Regions from separate parts of the Homo sapiens genome. Here regions 1 and 2 are each linked to region 3. Evidence: fine-mapped expression QTL. A gene starts in region 3. Each other region holds a variant in brackets. All regions are shown on one strand. Distances are between the middles of the regions. Region 1 has its middle 20 kb from the start of LINC02650. Region 2 has its middle 220 kb from the start of GHITM. Region 3 holds the start of GHITM (growth hormone inducible transmembrane protein).

What was found. PIP is the estimated chance that this variant, and not a neighbour inherited with it, causes the effect.
Region 1: its variant is fine-mapped to the expression of GHITM in whole blood (TwinsUK, PIP 0.95).
Region 2: its variant is fine-mapped to the expression of GHITM in breast (GTEx, PIP 0.96).

The regions. Positions count from the first base shown.
Region 1 is chr10:83,693,242-83,701,427 of GRCh38, forward strand. No RefSeq gene overlaps it. Among named protein-coding and RNA genes, the nearest start is that of LINC02650, 20 kb to the left of the region's middle. RefSeq lists an enhancer at 8,141-8,186. The variant C/T (reference allele first, on the strand shown) is at 4,929.
Region 2 is chr10:83,918,604-83,926,789 of GRCh38, forward strand. No RefSeq gene overlaps it. Among named protein-coding and RNA genes, the nearest start is that of GHITM, 220 kb to the right of the region's middle. The variant C/T (reference allele first, on the strand shown) is at 5,046.
Region 3 is chr10:84,134,947-84,143,132 of GRCh38, forward strand. GHITM (growth hormone inducible transmembrane protein) reads left to right here and starts at 4,563. Exons shown (of 9, transcript NM_014394.3): 1 at 4,563-4,647; 2 at 6,516-6,683; 3 at 7,709-7,808. The coding sequence starts at 6,555. RefSeq lists enhancers at 3,931-4,500, 4,501-5,070 and a silencer at 4,644-4,843.

The DNA of each region.
Region 1 (8,186 bases), 440 kb before region 3:
TATCTCAAGGACAATACTTATTTAGCTGCTAGGGGGAAAAAAAGAAAAAAAAGAAAAAAATGTGTGGCAGTTAGAACATAGTTTATCCTTTAAGTGTAGGAGTGAGTGACTTAACCCTCGCCTGCCATGGCCTTAGGTCTTGTCTCTAATTTTGGTATCTTAATGCTACAATGAGTCCGTTTTGTCAGTCTTATGATCTCTGGTTTAACATTAACGCTGGTCAGTTTTTGTGTCTAAACCATAAAAGGAGGAGGTATAATGAGCTGTGCCTGACCTCCCATCCTGTCATAGCTAGGAACTCAGTTTTCAGGTTTTTCTAGGGTCCCCTTGGCCACAGGGCATCCATTCAGTCGATGAGGGCTTAGGATTTTATTTTTAGTTTCGAGTCCTCATAACCAAGATGGGCCAATCGGAAGCTTATCTGTGAGTATTGAAATTTAAGGCTAAGTGAGATGTCATGCCTCTGTGTTTAGATAATACTGATATTTAAAATGCAGAAAGTGTGGGCCACTCTTCTTTTTTTTTAATGATGCAGACTTGGAAGTGAAGAAACTTGGTCTGCAGAGGAGATAAATAAGAAATATATATACAGAAAAACTGCAAGCCTCAATTCTAGTACTACATTCCTGCCCTTGGGTTTCAAGAGACACCCCTCTTTCATTATTGAACAAATTATCTCATTTATGCTGATTGAGGTAGTGTGAGATATTTTTATTTGTTATAAAAGAGAGCTAATAAATAGAAATATTATCACACTGAAAAACAAGTAGGTAGGTATTCTCAGCATGAGCATTACCTATGCTGATTCAAAATATCTGCTCCTTTAAATCTATAGCTTAGGTTCAAGTAGAGTTTTTTTCCCCATCTCAAAGATCTCTTTTTCTTACATGAAAACTTTAAGACTAGCTTATCATCTCTGTTTTGCAGTTTCCCTCTGAGACCAAAGGAGACAAAGGCAGTTATTTAGTTTTGTTTCATAACTGTCCTTCAAGATGTTGAAAATTGTAATTTGGCTTATTGACTTTTATCTTCTTGCAATTTGTTAACGTTTTCACTTGACTACATCTTACGCTACAGATGGGGAGAGAAAGCAGCACCAAGTCATTTTTCTAGTATTGCCTGTGAAGATCTTCCAGTAATTCTTATTCTCAAAAGAGCAAGCATTCTGGGCCACCTTCCCTTGGCAGAAGGAAGCAGAAGACACTTTTGTGGGCATTGCAGACAGCAGTGGAGGAAGTGGGCACATGATGTGCAGACTTGCCTTCCAAACCATGCTGATGTGATGGAGGTCGATCTGCCAGGCAGCAATTACACATTCACGGGGGAATCGATGCAGCTAAATTTACATTGACCTCAGCAAAATAGTTAGGAGTGGAGTAAATCCCTTCAGGCTCTTTTCCGGGGAAATGCAAATAGATGTAGACATGTATGTTCCTCAGAAAATCTTTTTCGGGAAACACATGGTTGGCCAGAAGATTATAGATGGATCCTGGGCCACATGGCATCTGCAAGTGTTTTGAGATCTTAATTTCTGTAGTTTAGTTTAAGCAGGAAAAGAGGTGGAACCTGTCATAAATAATAGTAACCTTAATATAAGTCAGTGAGCATTTTTTCACTTAATGTGTGCCAAGCATGGTGCTGTATTTATAATTAGTACAACTATAAGGAAAGGCATCATTATTATCATCTTATCTTATTGATGAGCAAACTGCAATTCAGGAAAGTTAAGTTGCAGAGTCTCACGTGTCAGAACTAGGACCTAACACAGGCAGTCTGATTCCAGTGCTCAGAGTTTGAGAGCACAATGTGAACTGTTTTTTTAATCATTCTTCAGACTATGAGGCACCTGCCAAGTTTTCAACCCTGAGGTCTAGGCAAAGGCTGTCAGAGAACCACACAACCAAGTGTAACCTGAGGAGTAGAAAGGAGACCTGGCATAAGGGACAGCATGTGGACAAACATGGTCAGTAGGCAGGAACAACAAATAGAACAGCTCAGTTCATGGTCGGCTGAGATCATGGAAAGCAAATGTGTCCAAGCCCCAACAAGGAATGCATGGGCCAGGCATGGGTGCATAAGAACATCTGCAGTGCTAGCTCTGTGTGCAGGAAAGGTACTCAGGCACCAGGGCTTTCCCAGACAGCAGGAGGAGTGAAGCATCATCACATCAGTGCATCTACTGCAGAGGGAGCACTGGCCTGCGTCAGAGCCCATGGTGCCCTTCCTCTGTGCCACTCTGTGTCCCTGTCCAGGCCTCATGGCTTTCTGAGCCTCTTTTCTATGCGAGAGGAGGAATCTCTATTTTGACTGCATTCATAGCCATGAATGAATCCAAGGAGAAGGGGCAGAGCTAACACTGGTTTGGGCTCCAAATCTCAGAATCTTTTGACCACAGTTCCCAGCATCATCCCATCACAGATGATTTAGCATCTGCCAAAAGCTTTGTAAACTGTCCCTTTTGGAGAATTTCTTGGACAGGGGAGAGTGACCACTTCATAGGCCACGGCTATATTCTTGCTACCCCAAAGGCTGCCCCTGCCCAGTCCTTAGCTGTGGGATGATAAATATACCCGAGTGGCTTTGCTTCTGTCATGCATCCTTCAGCCTAAATTCTCTCCTAGGGCAGAATGTTCTATGGTTTGTTCTCAATTTCTTCTCTCTTCCCTCACCTCAGCCTTTCCCCCATTTCTTAATTTTGGTTTGGTTTTCTGAAGAGCATCACTCCTCAGCTAGTTTATCTCAGCCCAGATTCCTTAGAATACTTACTAAGGTTTCTCAAAGCATTGGGTGCCTAAATACATGTCTTTTACAACTCACGTTGATCATTAGATAGTTCTGGTAGTTACTGGTTTTTCCCAATACTTGCCCATGGTGTTTTAACCCCCTAATAAAACAACTGGAAATCCCTAGATTTTATTTTTCATGGGCAGGTGGTTTGGGGAGACTTGGGATCTCCTGAAATTAAGACTCCTCTGATTCAACAATTATCTGAGAATCAAGAAAGAAGAAAGTGAAAAAAAAATGAGAATAATGAAACAGTTTAACATTTCTGAGGAATAGACTGGAGGTAATATGACATCTTTCAATTGGAGCTGGGAATCATTATTTGTTGGCCTGGCAAATTCAGTTCGGATTAATTGTGAAAAATGCCAGTTCGGAACAAGTTACTTGATTGAGTTGTTTAAATCACCCTTATCAAGAGTTGTTTGAGGACTGCCTAATCAGTCTACCATTAGAAGTATTTGCATGATCTAGAGCAACAGAAAAGAGGCCGCCCCAACTCCCATTTTGGAAGAAAGGTTTTGTTGTGGGTGGAAGGTTGGTTTTGGTTTTAATTTTGTTTTGGTTTTCTAAAGAGCATCCTAGAATTGAAGGACAATAACAGAGTTGATTCAATGGAGGCATGCAGTGTGATTTGCAGATGAAGGCCCTCATTAGAAACTTCCTGATTTTCTGCTCTGTGTAAATGTTTTCCGGTGAATAAACTTCAGAACGTCCATGTCGAAGCCTAGAAAGAGAATCTCTGGGGAAGAAGTGAGGGATGATCTTTGTCCATCTTTATGGTTCTTACCTTCTGCTTGTGAGGAAGGGTCTCTTCCTACAAAGTAAGGCTCCCCACCACCCTTTGCTTCCTGAATACGCTGCTTTGTCTCCAGAGCTCTGACTCAGGGACTTGGGAACTCGTTAGCATAGATGAGATGACCTGTTGTTTTCACAAGGCTTTCTTGAATTCTGGAGGTGATCAATAAAGGAGAAGGGACAAGGTGCTCCAACCCTCTGGTTCATCACACAAAGCCCCTCGGTATTGTCTCATCTTGCTTCTACCCGAGGCTCACAGTCGTGGTTAATTTATTCTGTCTCTTAAAATGTAAATATTGACCCCCAGAATCACCTGTACTTCCTGTGTTCTTTCCCTCCAGCTTCCAGCCTAACTTGCATGTGCGGACACCCAGCTAACACATGAGGTTGTTTTCCTAGCATTCTGACTTCCCTCATAGCCAAAAGAACATTCCAATCCTGATGTCCAATTCACCCTAGAGCCTCCCCTTCAAATCCCACTTCTGGTTGTAAGGACATGCCTTTTCGCCAGGACCCAGATTCCTTGAATGAGCTCTCTCTACAGGCAGGACTTGCTCTTCACCCAGGGACATAGACTTTCCCTTGTAAAGCCATTCTGAGATATAAGTATCATTACTGTATGCACTTTACAAATCAATACACTGAGGAATAAATAGATTAAATGATTTTTTCAAAGTCACACATCTCACAAAGGATAGAGCCGGGATTTGAATCCAGATGAATTTGAGCACTAAGCCACGGTTATTCTTTGCTGTTTTCAGCAGTTTCAAGATTCTAATGCACATCTTATAATTCATGAAAAAAACAATCTCTCATAACTAACTCCAACCCTGCACTAATATATTTTGAAGCAGGCAACTTTTATTTATTAAGATCTCCAGATAAACCTGTTTAGGTTTGCTATTTATTACTGTACTTCTTGCTCTGAAATGGGACTGGCTGGTAACTTGAAAAATGAATGGAAAATTGTGTCGTTGTGCTCTGACTGGTTAAAATCCCTCCTTCTGGGCTGAAATGCTAGTGTACACTCTCAGTTCTTGTAGGCATTTATTCTGGAATTATTGTGCAGACCATTAAGTTTGGGGGTTTTCTCAGTCTTTGCAATTTCATAAGCTGTAGAGGCTCCATTGACCACAGAAGGCTGAGTAGTAAATGGATATGTATTGTGAATGGAATGCTTTTTGCTAAAAGAATCCCTGTAGAGAAAAGCAAAAAAAGGAGAATGTCAAACTTGATTCAGACCAACTAAGATCCTGTGAGCCCTCTGTTCAACTTTACAATATCTGCTAATGTCCCTTCTTTTCCAGAGTAGCTGTCAACTCCACCTTAAGATCACCCTGAGGAATGCT[C/T]GGTTCCCCTAAGACAGGCCTGGGGAGTGCCTAGGTCCTTTACACCTTACCTAGGTCCTTCCTAAGACCTCAGCTCCTCTGCTTCCTCAGGTCTACATAGCTGCCTATTCCTTGCTAACTCCTTGCTGCCTGTTTTTCTCTGTAACACCTTCAGACTGGCCCTTTAAATTACCATTTCTTTCTTTCTATGGCTGGACTTTTTAGCATTAATTCATGACAAGCTCACTGTAGGCAGGAGGCTGGCCCTTTACTTCCCATCCCTCAGCTCTCTCTTTTCTATGCTGGTCTCCATGGATTTCTCCCCCGCTACTTGTGTTTGGGCATAATCTATTGCCAAACTTTGGTAAGAAGCACTGACTTCCCTGAAGCAACCTCGCTAAAAGGACCCCTACGGTGTGTCCGGTCATAGGAACAAGGGTTTCTGACCTTTACGGCTCTCTTCAAGGCAGTCATTCTACCAGTGTGTTCATGTATATGTGTATACGTATGCAAGCATGTGTGTATGCGTGTGTATGTTATATGGATGCATGCATGCACGCATGCATGTGTAATGTGTGCATGTGTAAAAGTACATGTGTGTCTGAGTGCATACATGTGAGCACACGTACATAAGAGTGTGTTTGTGTGCCCATGTGCAGAGGTAGGGAAGACAGAGTGAGTGGGTGAACCCTTGACCAACTTTTCATCAACATGACTTGGTCAATCTTGGAGAAGCTCCTTGGGAAGCTTGTGGCACCAACACCTGAAATGCAGGAAGCTGGTTCAGAAAGTACTTGTAGGACAGAAAGAAACACATCAGAAGCAATTACTGGTGATTCAAGAGATGGTGGGAGATTAGAAAATTGCCAGCATCCTGGCATTTGCAAGGGTCACCAAGGGACAGTGAGTGAAAAACAAATATTTTTCAAGTTGTTTGGCAGCACTTTATCCCACTCGCTGGTGGATGTGGGGAGAAAGGGAAAGCAACCTCTCAGACACACTTACGTCCTCTGTGTGCCTCAGCAAGACTCATTTCAATTCTTTCTGGACACATGTTTGGAGTCACTTAAGGGGCAGTGGATGCAGCAACTGTAGTTCACTTCCCTAGTTCAAACTTTAGAGAGACCCTGAAGACATACCCTGATTTTCTTTGTTCAGCATGAATGTTAAAATCAAAAAGCTATGGACATTTCCAGGAAAAGCCAGCTGAAATATCAAATCAGCTGAAAATTCACAAATCCGGAAAACTAGAAATTGTCTCTATTTAAATGTATAAATACATTTTTTAAATAAAATGTAATGAGAAAACATAAAATGTCTGATCACAAACAATTATAAATGTAAGCTTACCCACAACTGCTCTCTGAGACGCATTTTTGCATCTCCCTGCCTCTTTCTCCTCCCTGCCTCCACCCTACACACCCACAGGCACATACTCATCAGTGCTCTGGGCCACACTGGTCTTTTTTCTACTCCATAGATATGTCCTGCACCCTCCTTTCTCAGGGGCCTTGCTGTCACTCTTCCATCTGCCTGGAATTATCTCCTCATTCTCCTTTTTTAGCTGACTATTGACCTCTGCACATTTCTTTAGCACACATCCTCCTGCAGAGAACTCACTCATTTGTGGTGTGATGATATCAGAATTTCTGGACTGATATTCAGATGTATACAGCTTCTTTACATGTATGAGCTTCTTTATTTTCTTGTGCTGAAGATCTCATTCTAGCTGATTGAAGGTGGAGTTTAAAATGTGACTAAAATTGTCTTGGTTCCTTTAAGTTTTGAACATTCTCTTTTTGATAAACTCAAAATCACATGATCTGAAAGACCAAAACAGATAACCCTTTGTCAACTAAGATGGACCCTAAGGTTGAGAAAACAAGGTTCCTATAGGTCGAGGGTTCAGGGCCCAGCTGGCAAGGCAAATTTCTACATTCTTAGGGTTTTAAATTCCCTAACAATAGGAATTATCAGACCCGTCCTAACTCTGACTTACAACCCAGGTCACTACAATTCTAACTGGACAGAGGACCAGCCTTAGAAACATTCTTTTCTGATAAGCAATTGCAGACTTTAAACCAGTTTCAGCAGCGTATAGAGGCTGTGCACAAATGATCTTTGTGTCATAAAGAATTCCACCCTATTTTAAGCAAAACCCTGCTCCAAAGTAAACATAGGATATATGTTACATGCATGTTTACTCACTGTGCCTGTGTTCGACTCCCCTCATAAATATGTACAGCTTTTCCCCCAAACCAACTAAATATATTTAATACCAACTTGTGAGCCATAAAACCCAAACTCCTTCCCTTCTTTGAAGACAGAGTACCTTTGATATACAATGGAAACTGTCCCTTCCCAGCCTGCAAACTAATATCACCAATAAAGCTCTTTTCTGCTATTTACCTATCCTGCTCATCTTTTGGATGACATTCAAATTATGTAAGTTTTTATTAGGTCTTTTTCTTCTCTCTTAAATGTATTCCCCCTCCCCCAGCCCTACCTAATAAGGTGTTTAGAGGTAGAAGAAGGTTTACATGTCCCCAAGGAACAAAGAAACCCAAAAGGTGATGTTAATGGAGTTAAAAAGAAATTATTTAGGCAGATAATGAGTGTAAGAAAGTCCTCGGTAAGGTTTTACTTTTAGTGAAAAGTAGCCCCCAAATTATTTTGTTATTATTATTATTTCTTTTTCTTGAGACAGAGTTTCACTCTTGTTGCCCAGGCTGGAGTGCAGTGGCGTGATCTCAGCTCACTGCAACCTCCACCTCCCGGGTTCAAGCAATTCTCCTGCCTCAGCCCCCTGAGTAGCTGGGATTACAGGCACATGCCACCATGCCCAGCTAATTTTTGTATTTTTAGTAAAGATGGAGTTTAAAAGCAGCCTTAAAAATCAAGCTGCAGACATAGTTGGAAGCTTGTACGGATGAAAACTGGCAGCTGTGCCCATAGAAGGCTACCTGGGGGCCAGCATGTTCAACCTGATGGCTCCATCTTCCCTTTTCTTTGTCAACCACGTGTACAGTAAGGAAGACAACATGGCCCAGGAAAGGTAGAGATCCCATTTGCATAGTAAAAGATTATGGTGGGATGGCCAGCTTCTTCACATGCTATGCAAATGTCACAACTGGTCCAACCAATTTCTCAGGCCCTATATAAATCAGACATTACTTCTTCAAGCTTGTCTGTAAAACCCCATGCATTCCACCATGAAACTGGAAGACCCACTTGGGAGCTCCTCTCTCTCTGTAGGAGAGAGAGCTATTCTTTGTTCTC
Region 2 (8,186 bases), 220 kb before region 3:
TGTAATCCCAGCTTCTCAGGAGGCTGAGGCAGGAGAATCACTTGAACCCAGGAGGCGGAGGTTGCAGTGAGCTAAGATCACGCCACTGCACTCCAGCCTGGGCAACAGTACAAGACTTCATCTCAAAAAAAAAAAAAATGCAGACTCAAAATTGCTACATGAAGTGCCTAGGCTGATAAACAAAGCTGAAACTCTCAGTTAATATTTATTGTGGACTTAATATTTATGTCCCCCCAAAGTCTATATGTTGAAATCTAATCCCCAATGCGATAGTATACGGAAGTGGGACCCTTGAGAGATAATTAGGTCATTATGCTGGAGCCCACATAATGGGACTGGTTTCCTTATAAAGGGATGAATGGCCCAGAGATCTGTTTCTACCCTGTGACGACATGGCCACCATGAGAAGACGGCCATCTAGGAACCATGAAGCAAGCCCTCACCAGACACAGAATCTTCCAGCACTTTGATCTTGGACTTCCCAGTCTCCACTGTGAGACATAAATAGTCTTTATTTAAGTCTATGGTATTTTTATTACAGCAGGCCAAACTGACTAAGGCAATGTCTCAACATATTATACCGCAACACAATTGTTACCAGAAAGCACTGCTCTAACCTAGTAGTACAGGAAACAGAATGATCCTAAAATTTATCTATTCCTAAGTGTTTCCAGAAATAGTGGGTCTAAAAGACACTCACCAGATAAATGATTTAGCTATCAAATGAGTTTCTCTTGAGAAGCCTATCCTAGAATCTCAGTGCATGTTATTGTTTTAAAAGCTCTGAGAAGGCCTGCAATAAGAACACCACTGAACTTTATTTAGCCCAGTGGTTCCCAGATTATTTGGCCCTAGAGAACTCTTTTCAATTAATATTCATTAACGTTGGACAGAATATGGAACACACTTGGGAAAATACCGCTCTAAGAAAAACTTCCAGGCCAGGTGTGGTAGCTCATGTCTGTAATCCCAGCACTTAGGGAGGGCGAAGCAGGCATATCACTTGAGCCCAGGAGTTCAAGACCAGCCTGGGCAACAAAGGGGGTCCTTTTCTCTGCAAAAAAATACAAAAATTAGCTGGGTGTGATGGCACATGCTTGTAGTCCCAGCTACTTGGGAGGCTGAAGTGAGAGGATCACCTGAGCCCAGAGAGGTCGAGGCTATAGTGAGCCATGATCTTACCACTGAACTCCAGCCTGGGCAACAGAGTTGAGACTTTGTCTCAAAAAAAAAATAAAAATAAAAAACTTTACAGATCAAAAGATTTACACACTGCCTTCTGCTCTCAGTAAGGTCTCAGCAGGAAATTAATAAAAAAAGAAAGCTAAGTGTAACCTATTTATTGAATGAGCTGGACTTAGCACAGTGCAAGAAGAAACAAATTTTTCCCTTTTCATCTGATCTCTTCTATACTTGCTCAGCCAAACAATACATCTCTGTCCCTGAATAAAATCCCAGGGAGATGCCAGCACTTTCTCAACCAGTCTCAGGAATTAGCAAGCATCCTTATGTTCAGGGGCAAAAAAGGCCAATCAATTTGAATACCAAAACTTAAATCTCTCATCCAATTTAAAACTTTTCGCCCCAGACCACTGTATTAGAGACCAGAGAGAAAGTCCATGGTGGGAAAGTCTTTGGAAGGTTTGAGGTTTTTGTTTGTTTGTTTTGCCTTCTACTAAACTGTTCTCACAGGCTTTTTGATTCTTCCTCCCATGGACCACGTTGCTACTGGTTCTTCTGAGGGTGGGAAAGAGAGAAGAGCAATGAGAGAAGTGAAGAAAGTCAAAGTGTCTTTTATGCCTGGTGCTATCTCTGGTCTTTTCTGGGTTTTTTAATTCCCTTAGTCATGGCAAACACCCAATTATTGGCTCCTTTGTCCTGTGGGGGCATTTTGGGAGATTCTTCAAAGACCCTCAATGCCAGAGGTGAGATCTCCCATCTGCAGATTGCTGGCATGGATATTGCCTCTTTGAGCTCACCAGTAGAATGAAGCCTTAAGCTCCTGGTATAGGCAATCCACAAGGGAGGGGTCACCTCACCCCTCAAGGCCAGAATTTTGGGTGAAGAACCTTTCAGCATATCCACAGTCTGTCTCATTTCCCAGTGAGCCACATCTGCAGCTCATTCCCACTCCTATCTCCTTGCACAGCCATCTGGGACAACCCCAGAAAGCCTCCCACCTGTAAGTTTTTTCCAATTGTAAGTTAGGTTTCAGCCTCTACAGTCTCCAACATCCAGTGTCCTCTTTATGATTGTTTGAAGCTCCTCTTCTCTTGACTTGGTAATAGAGAAAAACTCCCTTTTGGGAGTGGGCAATGCCCAGCTCATTGGCACCTCTGTGGGGTTTGAGTTCCTAGGAAATAGACCCTGAATTAAAGATTTTTAATATGGATATTTATTGGTGAATGACTCACATAAGGAAGTAAAGGAGAAACACAAAGGGAAATCTTCATAACTTTGATCTAGGCAAAGATTTTTTTGGATATGAACCCAAAAGCACAGGTAACAAAAGCAAAAATATCAAATGGGATTGCATAAAATGAAAAGGCTTCTGCACAGCAAAAGAAACAACCAACAGAGTGAACAGACTATCTATAGAACAGAGGCAATATTTGTAAATCACACATCTGATAAGGGGTTAATATCCAAAATACATAAGGAACTCAACTAAGGGGTTAATATCCAAAATACGTAAAGAACTCAAACAACTCAATAGCAAGAAAACAAAAAACCCAATTTAAAAATTGGCAAAGAACCTGAAAAGATATTTCTATACAAATGGCCAAGTATATTTTTTAAATATTCAACATCACTAAACATCAAGGAAATGCAAAATAAAACCACAATGAGATGTCGCTTCACACCTGTTAGAATGGTTATTATCAAAAAGACAAGAGATAACAAATGTTGAAGAGGATGTGGGAAAAAGAGAATATTGGCACATGGTTGGTGGGAATGTAAATTAAGGCAGACATTATGAAAACACAGTACAGAGGTCCCTCAAAATATTAAAAATAGAACTACCATATGACCCAGGAATTCCACGTTTGGGTATATAATCAAAGGAAATGAAATCGGTTTGTAGAAAAGATACTGCACTCCCATGTTCACTGCAGCATTATTCACAATAGCCAAGATATAGAATCAACCTAAGTGTCCATCAATGGATAAATGGGTAAAGAAAATTTATACACAACATTATACACAACAGATTACAATTTGGCCTTAAAAAAGAAGGAAATCCTGTCATCTGCAACAACATGGGTAAACCTGGAGGTCAAGTCAGTATTCCAAGTGAAATAAGCCAGCCACAGAAAGACAAATACTGCATAATCTCATTTATATTTGGATTCTTAAAAAGGAAGGTAAGAATGGGGAGATGTGGGTCAAAGGATACAAAATTTCAGTTAGATGGGAAGTATAAGTTCAGAAGATCTTTGGTACAACATGGTGATTATAGTTAATAACAGTGTACTGCATATTTTGTAGAGATGGATCTCACTGTGTTGCCCAAGCTGTTCTCAAACTTCTAGGCTCAAGTGATCCTTCTGCCTCAGCCTCTCAGAGTGCTGGGATTATAGGTGTATGCCATACTGCCTGGCCACAACATATTGTATATTTGCAAATTGTGGAGTAGAATTTAAATGTTTCCACTACAAAGAAAGATAAGTGTGTGCACATGTTGATTTGCTTGATTTAGTCATTCCAAAATGTATACATACATCATATCAACATGCTGTACATTATAAATATGTACAATTTTAAAAAGTGAATTAAATTTTAGAAAAAGAAGTGAAAGAGCAGGATTGGGCAAAGGGAGAATCATATTTCTGTGCAGTTGCATCATCTTTCAGCTGATCTCCCAAGGAGCTCTCAAACTGGATTTTTCCCACACAAAGGCCACGGAAACAGGTCTCTGTACACCTTCATCCACCAGTCCTGGCTGCAGGCTGTCCGCAGAGAGGAGACATAAACTTGAACAAGGAAGCTCCCTCCATCCAAAGGAGTCCCCAGAGAAGGATGCTGCTGTGAAGGAAGCTGGGGGACTGAGTGCCTTGGTCCTGAAGGGGGCCTGAGTGGTGCACCCCAGCACAGCACCAACAATATTTCCCACTGCATGTCAAAAATGGGGAAGGCCCATTTAACAGCCTCCTCCAAAAAACACGCACTTTTTTGTATTGTGCTGATTTGTGTTGTAGTTTGCCTCTTGTGAAGAGGAACATCAGGTACTTGTTAAGCTGATCAGTTAACAACAGCGCAATCCCCAGGAAGATTGCTAATGTGTACTTGTTCTTTCCTGGTTCTTCTCTTCATTGTCTGTGTCCTATTTTGAGCAGCTCACATCACCCCTCTAGTCTCAGTTTCCTTAACTATAAAACAGGATGAGAAAAACTATGCTTCCTGCCTCTCTTTATCTGTGGTGGGATATTCATGAGATGACTGATACCCTCAAAGCAAGGGCTTTGGAATCCGCTACAGAGAGATCAAGCCTTCTTCAAAGTACTAACATGAAATTGGTAGGCGTGCTGAGCTTTTTCTGGATAAGCCCCATTAAGGTTTGGTGATCAGGCATCCTAAAAAATAGCACTGATAAAAGAACTTTTTCAGAGACAGTCTTCATTCCTGCTTGGGTCAGGGAGGAATGGGGGTTGCGTGTGTACCACCTTGAGGGCTAAGGGCTGAATATTGAAGGCTGCATCTCAGGAAAGGGGGCATCAGATGGGGCAGTGATGCTACCCAGCCCATCAAAAAGACTCTGTCACAGAAGAGCCAGCATGATGGCTTAGCTTCAACTCTGCTATTCATGAGGATGTGAGACTTTGTAAGTCACTCCTGTACTGGAATCCATTCCGTATCTGTGAAATGAAAGCATGATCCCGGGCCAGGATTTTCAAACTCTTTTAATAACAGTACTCTGTTTCAATTGGAAATTTTTTTCAAACCCTAGTACAGTAGTCCCCCTTTATCTTTGGGGGGTAGATTCCAAGACTTCCAGTAGATGCCTGAAGCTGCAGATAATACCAAACCCTATGTTTTTTCCTATA[C/T]ATACTTATGATTACATTTATTTTACTAATTAGGCACAGATAGAGAGTAGCAACAATAACTAATAATAAAGTAGAACCATTATAACTATACACTGTAATAAAAGTTATGTGAATGTGCACTCTCTCTCTCTCTCAATATCTTATTGTACTGTACCCTGAGTAACCGAAACTGTGGAAACCAAAACCATGGGTAAGGGGAAACTAGTGTATATGAAGGCATTACAGAGGTTCCTCATGATGTTTAATTGTAGGCTAATAATGCAAAATTTTCTCCAAATTTTGTAAAAGTCATTTGAAGCACATTAATGCAATCATTCACTCAAAAAATAGTTCCCACATGTCTTCCATGTGCCAGGCACAGTAATAGACAGGGTATTCAATAATGTGCTACAGGCTGGACACCCAGCACAGTTTCTGACCTCCTAGAATGTATAGCCAGTTGGGTGAGCCAGACAAGACATAGGCAATTACAATGCAGTATGATAAGTGCTCCAACAGGAGGATTTTACAGCCTGTCAGAGAGGATTTGAACCCAGCATTGGCAATGTGGAGGAGTCGTGGCTGATGTTTCAGAAACACTGGATCTAAAGGATGTGTTAGAGTTAACTAGCCACTGAAGAGAGGAGAACCTTCCGGGTAGAAAGCATTCCATGTACAGAAGGCCAGAATTGAAAGACAGTGACGCATTTGAAGAGCTGAATAAAGATCAGTGGGAAATGAAAGGAAATCAGTGAGAGCAGGAGATGGGGCCTGGGAATTAAGCACTTTATACACCAGAAAAGGTCAGTTGTGAAATACCAAGAAAGCTGGACTTCATCCTAAGTGCCATGAGAAGCCACTGATGGATTTAAGCAATGTTTAAGAGTCTAGGTGACCTCCCAGGGTGCTCTCATCACTAATGCTTGCAATAACAGACTTCATTAAGCCCAACCAAGAAATTCTTCCACATTAATTGGGCCATTCAGCAAATATTTGCTAAATGTAATTTAAACGTGATTATTTAAATCACAAAGATTTAGCGACACACCTTTTAGGGAAAAAGAGATAAAGGTAAACATTTCTGGCAGAAAACCCAATTTATATTTCTCAAAGAGCAGCATCACGTCTCCAGTAGGAGAGAAAAGGAAAGCAGAAGATTAAGATGGGTACACCTAAGAAAAAGGGCACTGGTGCCTAAAACTAAGCAGGTAAAGACTGGGATACTGTGAGTCTAAGAAACAAAAGACAGCAGAAGAGCAAGAGAACTGCAAAGCACTCAACAGGAAGATCGATTGGGAAGCTGAAGGCAGGGCAGCTAAGAAGATGAGCACCCAGCCCCCAAAGACTGGACCAGAGAATGAGGGCTCTAAGACAAGCTGGGCAGTGTCTCCAGTAGGAATTAAGCCTCCTAGGAGACAGTAAAAATCTTTCATTCAAAAGATGAGCCACTAGCACCCCAACTTTGGTCGACTATTACATTGTTAGTCTCAAAAAAAAAAACAAAAAACAAAACCTACTTCTCATCTTTTATACCCTTGCAGAATAACCTCCCAATTTGGGCTTGGCCATGTCACTCGCTTTGGCTAATGGAACATTAGCAGGGTTAATGCAGAGGCTTCAACTCTTGGAATGCCCTCTCTCAAAACCCAGTTCCCCTGCTGTGAGGAAATTCAGGCAACCCTGTTGGAGAAAAGGACCACGTGGAGAGGCTCTGAAGGATGACATTGTGTGGAGAAAGAAGCGACAGGAAAGGGAAACTTGGTGCCCCAGCTGAGCTCCCAGCTGAACGCAGGTGCCTGAAGCAGCCCAGCCAAGGTGACATAGAGCAGAAACAGCCAAGGCAGCCTCAGAATCATGAGTCATAATAAATTGTTGTCATTTTAAGTCGCTAAATTTTGCAGTAGTTTGTCATGTGGAAAAACTACAAGAAAAAAATGGAAAATAAGGGGCATGTGGGGTTGAAACCAGAAGATTATACCTATGAGTTTCAGAAATAGCATTTAGAGAGAATTGGCGGGGGAAGTGGGGACTGTGAAGTAATCAAAGAAATAAAAAGAAAAATTCTCGTAATTGAAAAAAGATTATATTCATATTAAAGTTGCTCACCGAAGACTAAGCAGTTTAGAAAGAAAAAACACACCTAGAACACAATGGTCATATTTCAGATATTTAGATATAGATACAAATATATGTATTTATTTACATATATAAATAAATATAAATTCCTCAAAAAATTCCACAGATTTTTTCAAACTCACCCAGAGTGGAATGAAAATCAGACTGGCATTAGATTTCTCATTGGAAGAATTTTATACCAAAAACAAAATAGTAATAAACAGGAATAAACAGGCAAATCTTCAAAATTCTGAGGAAAGTTATTTTGAACCTAAAATTCTATATCCAGCCAAACTAATATTGAAGAAGGAAGTAAAACATAGATATATCTGGACAGGCAAGGATCCATAAATGTTATCTCCTCACAGAATATCTCTGAAAGAACTGAGTATATACTAGAAATATGAAGACAAATTTTAAAAATTATGTGAAATATAAGAAATAAATGAAAACGAATCACTAAAACTTGTAGTTAAGTATAAATAACCATTGATCCAAAATGTGGGGAAAAAAGAGTTAACAAATAACTGTATGAAACTGAAATCCTGGGTAATCTCAAATGAAATATGAGGCTAGGAAGAGAAGGAAGAAAAATATCATGTTAGGGAGGGATTGTCGGGGAGTTAAAGATTCTGAAGGACACAGCTCCAAAATGGGGAAAATTAGGCAAAGAACACTTGATCAAGTCAGGGGAGTTAAAAGGGAGCAGGAGAAAAAATGACAGACAGAAAAAACAAGGTGGCAGAATGAGTTTAAACTTTGGAAATCATAATACAGTTTTTTGACTGGCTTTATTTCCATTAACTCATTGGTTGGGTTTAAAAAAAACATCCAGCTATATATGTTGCTAATGTGACACACTGAAAAGAAAAAGAGACAGGATGTTAAAAACAAAGACACAAAAGATGTACATATCAAGCAAATGCTAATGGGTTTGTCCATCTGGGGATTGTGTTCAATGATGTAGCAGGAAGTGGCACTGGAATGTCAATTTGGGCCAGCATTTTGATTTCGTCATAGCTGTTGTCAAAACACTTGGGTATATTG
Region 3 (8,186 bases):
GGTAACACCAAAAATTTTTCTGATGAGCCTGATATCAGAGTGAATCACAGAAATCCTGTATTCTAGGCCAGTGCTCCTCAGCCTTTTTTTATTATTGCTTCCCTAGGAATTCATTTCAGATGCTTTTGCCTGATTCCCTCCCCCATGACATCTTAATGTCATAGCTTTACTAGCACATGTGCTGTCTGCATATCCATGCATTATATATTAAAAGAGAGATTTTTTTTAATCCCTCAAGCACCAGCTTTTGCCTCCATCGCATGTTCTAGACCCAGATCTACCATTTACCTTGCTATGTTTTTGATATAGTTTGTATATTTGTCCCCACCCAAATCTCATGTTGAACTATAATTCCCGTTATTGGAGGAGGGGCCTGGACAGAAGTGACTGGATCATGGGAGTGGATTTCTCTTGAATGGATTAGCACTATCCCCTTGGTGCTGTCCTTGAGATAGTGAGTTCTCAGGAGATCTGGTCATTTAAAAGTGTTTGGCCCTTCCCCGCCAACTCTCTCTCTCTTGCTCTTCCTTTTGCCATGTGATGTACCTGCCCCTCTTTGCCTTCTGCCATGATTGGAAGCTTCCTGAAGCCTCCCCAGAATCAGATGCCACTATGCTTCCTGTATAGCCTGCAGAATCATGGGCCAATTAAACCTCTTTTCTTATAAAATACCCAGCCTCGGGTATTTCTTTATAGCAGTGCAAGAACAACCTAATACCTTTTTCTTAAGAAAAGCTACTACAATTTCTGAGTGTTGGTTTCCTCTTGGAAGACTGACCAGAAAGCATGACACTAGTCTCAATTTTCTGCCAATATCTGTCCCTCCACAGATACTACCCCACTAATGACCTTGTCCTTTGGCCCACTTACAGCATTTAGTTGCACATATGTGAGGGGTATATATTGTCAGTTAGGTGAATGCAAAATTGAGCTACATTTTTCTTTAAACTGCCATCGATGTCATTTTCAAGGCCCCAGTCAGTTTAGAGCAGACAGCCTATTTATTCCATTTTGCAAGCTCAGAACAGTCTGACAATTTGTCTGTCAGTTTCAGGATTTATTACCATCAGTCACATTGGAGTTCAAAGTCCTTTCTCCTCTCCTGGGCCACAACTGGATTAGAAACATTTACATTAAACAGGAGGGGAAAAAGTGTAGCTTCTCTGTCCTTCCACTCTACCTCTTAGTCATTGCATTGTCATGCAGCTGCCGTTCAGCAAAATCTAAAGGGAGTAGTCCCCATGGCTTCATTGTCTTTCTGTGGCTGGCAGGATATAACTTTTGAAGTTGGCACAGTTTGATCTCTCACCCAAGCAGAGTCAAATGGCTCTGCCTTGTCATACACTAAATGGTCTGTTGGTGCCCATCTGGGCATCTCACCCACACATACTTCTAGTGTCGCCTCACTACTGAGCAGCATCTCGAAGGGTGCAAACAAGCAGGTGCGTGCTCACAATCACATTCTTGTGTTTATCTAGACCTTAGGGATTCCAAGGGAAAACAAGGCCAAGATGGGGAAGATCTTGTAACTTTCCTACCTGCTCTGTTGTCTGCCACTTAGCAACCACATGAGAAGCAGGTGCCAATTGGTCCCTACATTCAGAAACATCTGCAACCTTTCAGGAAGAAGCACCTTCCCTTTGTTGGGAGACTCCATCAGGGAGGGCAGAGGTTAAAGCCCCAGCAAACTCCCTTTCCAACTCTGTTTCATTCATACCACATCTTCTGATGGGAAAGCATAGTAGGGCAAGGTGAGAGCATTTATTTTAACTGAAAGTAAATAAAATATTTTATCTTTTGTCCTGGCTCTGAGTTTTCTCCACTATAATGCAGCATATCTCACTTAGCCAGCAAGTGGAGAATAAGGAATTCATCAGCAGACTGTAATAAAAACCGTGACATATATATAGTATTGGAATTTACGAATCATGTCTTTTCCTTTTTATTTACTTATTTATTCTTTTATTTTTTATTTTTTATTTTTTTGAAGTGGAGTCTCGCTCTGTTGCCCAGGCTGGAATGCAGTGGCACGATCTCGGCTCACTGCAAGCTCCACCTCCTGGGTTCATGCCATTCTCCTGCCTCAGCCTCCCGAGCAGCTGGGACTACAGGTGCCCACCGCCATGCTCTGCTAATTTTTTTTTTTTTTTTTTTTTTTTTTGGTATTTTTAGTAGAGACGGGGTTTCACCATGTTAGCCAGGATGGTCTCAATCTCCTGACCTTGTGATCTACCCGCCTCGGCCTCCCAAAGTGCTGGGATTACAGGCGTGAGCCACCACACACAGCCTACTTATTTATTTTTAAAGACAGCATCACCCTATGTTGCCCAGGCCGGCCTTAAGCTCCTGGGCTACCTCCCCAGTAACTGGGACTACATGCATGTGCCACCATTCCCGGCTTGTCCTTTTCTCTATCCTACACTCTAAGAACTTAGAAGCAGAGAACTTAACAATTAAACACTTCAAACTAAGTTTTATGTATCTACTTCCCCTCACTTGTATCTCTCCCTGTATCCTATTGCTAAATTAATGATAAAATTATCCACCCAGTTCAGAAGGATTACTCAGGGAGCCTTCCTCATTCTTATCAGCTATATTTGACCGACCATTCAATCCTGCAAACTCCACTTCAGCAATATATCTCTGTCATAAACCCCTCTGTGTCTTTCTACTGGCTTAATTCCAGCCTTTATTGCCTTTTGGTTGAACAACTACAATAAATTCCTAATTGGTCTCCTGGTCCATGGAACCTCTCCCTTCCTACACTGCCACAAGAGCATATATTTCCCAATGATATGACCAGATTCCTCCCCTGCTTCAAAATATTTGACCCCTGTGGAAACAACAATACAAGCCCTTTACTTGAGAAAGGAAAATATGAAATCAGACATTTTTCTTCCAATATGGAGAGAATAAGCTTTAATAGGAATCTTGAAGAAAGCTTGAGTCATTGACTTCAAGATCTTTATTCTGGTACTGTGTTGTAAATCCTTTCTCTTTGCTGATAACAGAAGCTCTAGAAAAAAAGACTATCACTGAAGGAGCCAAACAGAAAACCTATTTGCTAGCTAATAAAATTGGGCATAGATCAAAATAAAAATTAAACTGATCATGCTTGATCTGTTCAGTTTCGTGAGATTTCTCTAGTGTTTTCCTGCCATTTTCAGCGTAAAGAGATAAGAATTGTGTTGCTGCCAGACTCTTTTATTATCCACATAGAAGGCAAGTCTTTATATTTGTCAAGGTTTACATGATTAGGAATCATAAATCACAATTAACTACTGCTTAGGAGATAAAGGTTCATGAATTTTGCATGTTGTTAATCACCTTATCACCCTTTCAGGGTTTTAATCTGCTCTTTCTTCATGGTATTAAGTTATCACATTATATTTTTTCTATGTTCTGTCTCTACCAGAAAGTAAAGCCACAGAGCAAGGACTTTATTTTGTTAAAATAGTGGTAGCACACACGGGTTTAATTCATTTGCTGTTTTTTTGTTTTTGTTTTTTTGGTTTCTTTTTTTTTTGAGACTGAGTCTCCCTCTATCGCCCAGGCTGGAGTGCAGTTGCGGGATCTGGGCTCACTGGAACCTCCGCCTCCTGGGTTCAAGTGATTCTCCTGCCTTAGCTTCCCAAGTAGCTTAGATTACAGGCACCAATCACGCCTGGCAAATTTTTGTATTTTTAGTAGAGACAGGGTTTCCCCACGTTGGCCAGGCTGGTCTCGAACTCCTAACCTCAAGTGATCCACCCGCCGCGGCCTCCCAAAGTACTGGGATTACAGGCTTGAGCCACCACGCCCGGCTGATTCATTTGTATATATTTCTAGAACAGAGCTTGGTACGAAGTTGAGCATTCAGTAAATATCTGTTGAAATAGAGGGAGAGTGAAAAAGAAAGTAACTCTCTCGCGTATTCCACAACTAGCTCTTCACCTATCAAATTACGCGCAATGGAAACATCTTAGTCCTCAGAGCAATCCTGGGTGCAAGGCAGAGGCGGCTGTTATCAGGCCTATTACACAGGTTTAGGGTGAAACTTGAAAATGTGGGCGGGAAAGTCACAAAGCAATGAAAAAACCATCTAGAAAAAATCTTTTCTGGATGTCACCATCTAACATTTGGCATGAGACCCCAGAAACCGGATGACTCGGCTCAGAAGCAGACACATTTGAAAAGATATTTATCTCACGATAAATTAAGGGACAAAAAGGCCTTCAAAAAGGAACGGAATAAACGGAATAATTTTTAACTCTAACATTACTTTCTTTCAATTTTTACATAATTCTTATAGCTGCGGCGAGTGAAACGACTAAAACAAAAGCAAAACAGAGCTCCACTGCCCAAAACAAAGATGGCCGAGACGACTCCCATGCCCACACGCAAAATGGACGCTGACTATGACGTTCCCTGCAACAATCCTCAACTGGCCCCGCCCCACCAATTTGGAACCCCGCCTCCTCAACCCGGAACCCCGCCTCCCCCAGTGTGGCCGCTTTTCCGACAGAGGCCTGCCCGTGATTGGCTGCTCGTACTATTTACGTCCTTTCGATGTTGCGTCATGCAGTGCGCCGGAGGAACTGTGCTCTTTGAGGCCGACGCTAGGGGCCCGGAAGGGAAACTGCGAGGCGAAGGTGACCGGGGACCGAGGTACTGCTCCGGCTGGCCGGCGGGCGCCCGGGATCCCCGGTGGTCCTGACAGCCGCCCTCACGGGACCGCTGGGTGCGGGGGGAAGGGCTGGAAGCAGCGGTGCTGCTGGCTGCGTCAGGGCCGGCCTGCGCGTTGGGGTCGCAGTCCTGTGGGTGACCTGGTGGAGAGGGCGGCGGCACAAGGCCCTGGTCAGGCGGGCAAGGGCTCAGTGTAGCTGTGCTTCTGTCCTCGGGCAACAAGGTGCTGAGTCATCCTTGCGGCGAGGCCGTACAGCCGCTGCGCTGGTAGCGGCACCTGGGGCAGGGGCAGAGGTGTTGTGGGTTGACAGGGAAGTTTGCTGCCGGGTTCTCATCTGAATCTAGCGGGCTGGGTGAACTTTCTCGGGGACCAGGCACCCAAACTCATCAATGCTCACGGAGGCATAAGCCCTTGGATTAGGGTCGGTAGTATTTTCCCCATTTTATAGCAACGACATCTGAGTCTTAGAGATCCACACTCCTCACAAGGTCACTTCTAACCTGTCAGAAGCGGGATTCCCACTCTGGGCTGTTACGCCACATGGAGGTCACTCTGAGCTGGACCTCTTCGGCCCCAACCAGTGGACTGAGTACTGAGGAAGATACAGGACAGCCATAGGTTGAGATGATGTAATGGCACGAAAGTTCCAAAAGCGCTGGGTGTTTTCCCAAAGGCCGGGTGCCGAATTTTAAGACCCTTAATAGTTCAGTTGCAGAGCTCGGAGGACGCTCGGGTATCTTAAAGCAATAGTTCTTAGCTTTTGGAGTGTTCGTTAAAACACACGTTCTTGGTCTTATTCCTAGGGGTAGAATCATTAGGAGCAAAGAAAGACCCAGGAGCCTACATTTTAAGATGCATCCGGGGCACTTTCAAGCAGGTAGTCTAAGGGTCAACGCTGTAGTCTGAACACGGAATCCTTATGTTACAGATGGGGAAATGGGCCCAGAAGTATATCACTTGCCTAGAATTCACTACAAATCATTGGCAGAGATGGGCTGGTAGCCCCAGTTGGTTTACACTCGTCATTTCATTCTGACCTATTGTAGTCACCTCACCTTAGCATTACAGAAACACTGTCTGCTGACTTCTGGTTGACCACCCATCTAGTATAATGTGCCCTGGAGCTAAGATAATCCAGTTTTTAGCATGCTTTTCTTTTGAAGACACCATCGAGGGAGTCTAATGTAAGGGAAACCTGGTTGGTAACTGAGTTTACTTGTTTACTTTGAAAGACTAAATGTCCTTTACGCATTATAGTAGGACATATAGAATAGGTTAACTTAGAATATTTTTATATCTCATGTTGAAGGAAAGTAATATTTGGTATGATTAGCTGAAATTCATATAGTTGGCTTCTTTTAATACCTTTTAGCTTTGTAATGCAGTATAACCTTGAAGAGCTATTCATGTCTTCTTTGGATGACACTATTCCTTTGCCCAAAAGTTATGTAGATTCTTTTAAATTTTCCCACTGGATGCTGGTATAAATCTTAAGCCAAAACTACATTTGTAAAAACCATCACAGACTCTGTAATCACGTCCAGTTATTAACAGCCGTTCTGTGTTACACATAATTTTTGCAGTCATCTATTTTGATTGGTCAAACTGGGACTTAAACCTAGTTTGTTCCTCCATCTTCAGCTGTGTTCTCTGGGATGGGTTTCTTGCATTACAGTGGATGGTTGGGCAAAGAATTCATCGCTGAAAATTAAAAAGGTCGCTTTATTTCCTGTTCTACTAAAAAATAGTTTGTTCCTTGACTCTGACTCTCATATGTCCTTCTCTTAATTGGTTAGTAGGTTGTTTTACTTATGTTTTTTTGGTTGGTTTTGCCTTTTTTTTAAACTAGCATTTCAGATCTGCTCGGTAGACCTGGTGCACCACCACCATGTTGGCTGCAAGGCTGGTGTGTCTCCGGACACTACCTTCTAGGGTTTTCCACCCAGCTTTCACCAAGGCCTCCCCTGTTGTGAAGAATTCCATCACGAAGAATCAATGGCTGTTAACACCTAGCAGGGTAAAGATAATCTGAATGTTTTTATATTGCTTCTTTTTCCATTTGTGCCCTTTCTTTTTGGCAGAGTATGGCTGCTCTGCCTTTAGTGTGTTATACGTCAGTTAGCCCTGATAATATCCCCAATCAGCTCTTTCTCCCCATTAGTTTGTATCATTCTGGTCCCTCCTTATCCCATATGAAATAGAAAATGAGTTTCTGTAACTCTGTCTTCGCTTACAGCTTCTGGAGTTTCTCATTTAGAAAATTTAGAGTACATTGTGAGGGATTGAGAGTTACATAGTGTAACGGAGATCCTGGAGCACATAGTCAGAAGTTTAAGAACCCAGGGATATTACCAGTTGGCCAATAGCTTATTAATAAATTACTAAATATATTATCTCTTATTTAGAGGTTGATAATATCTGTCAGGTTAGAAAGAAACCCATTTTTATAATAGATTTATCTTCTGGCATTCAGATTATAAGGTTTGAAGTGTGAGGTAATGAGGACAATATAAAGAAGCTAGGAGACATTTTCTCTTTTAAATTAACTGTTCCACTGTTGAAAAAGAGCCACAATGGAAGTAGTAGTCTTCCCTCTTCTTGGCTTCATGTTAAGGAAAGATGCTGTTCTTGAGTCCATATCCCAGATGACAAAATATAGCTAATAATGCTTGTAGAATGCATATCTTAAAAATGCTAACAGATTCTCACCCTGGTATTTGGTTAGGATTTAAAATATAACAATTCTAGGTATGTAAATCTATAGTTTGTGAAAGAAACAATTTTTCTGAAATTGAAACTAAGAATAATATAATGAATTACTAACTTCCAAAGGTGGAGCACAGGGAAGGTCTACATTTATTTATTTATTTTTACATTTAGTTTTTTAAGTTGGCTAATAAATTTCCATAGTGAAGTTAGGTATATAGAAAGTACCAAGTTTCTTTAACTAGAGTTTTCTAGTGTAAAGGGATCTTGCATTTTATTTTATTAACGTTCTGTTTTCATGTGGGTGGTACGTGTCTTTGTTTGCATGTGTGTCAGGAATATGCCACCAAAACAAGAATTGGGATCCGGCGTGGGAGAACTGGCCAAGAACTCAAAGAGGCAGCATTGGAACCATCGATGGAAAAAATATTTAAAAGTAGGTGGCTATCTTTAGTTTTTAACCTAGAATCTATGGATATGTTTTAAGAGGTCCATGAACAACTTCCTAAAAATATATGTGTATTTGTGCATTTTCTGGGAAGACCACATTATTATTCTGAGATCTGACGACCCAGAAAAGATTGGTACTTTGCACTGGATTCAGTGGTTATCAATCATATTTCTTCCAGTGGAAATTTTACTTTCCTTTTTTTTAAAGAAAAGGATTATTAATATGCCATGGTCCAAAAGGTATACTCTGTTGAGAAAGTTCATTTTAAGTGTGTAGAATCCTCATTCAAGCATATAATATTTGTGTATGTTTCAGATTAAGAATAAATCACCAACACATAGATGTTAATAAAAGCCTAGCTGT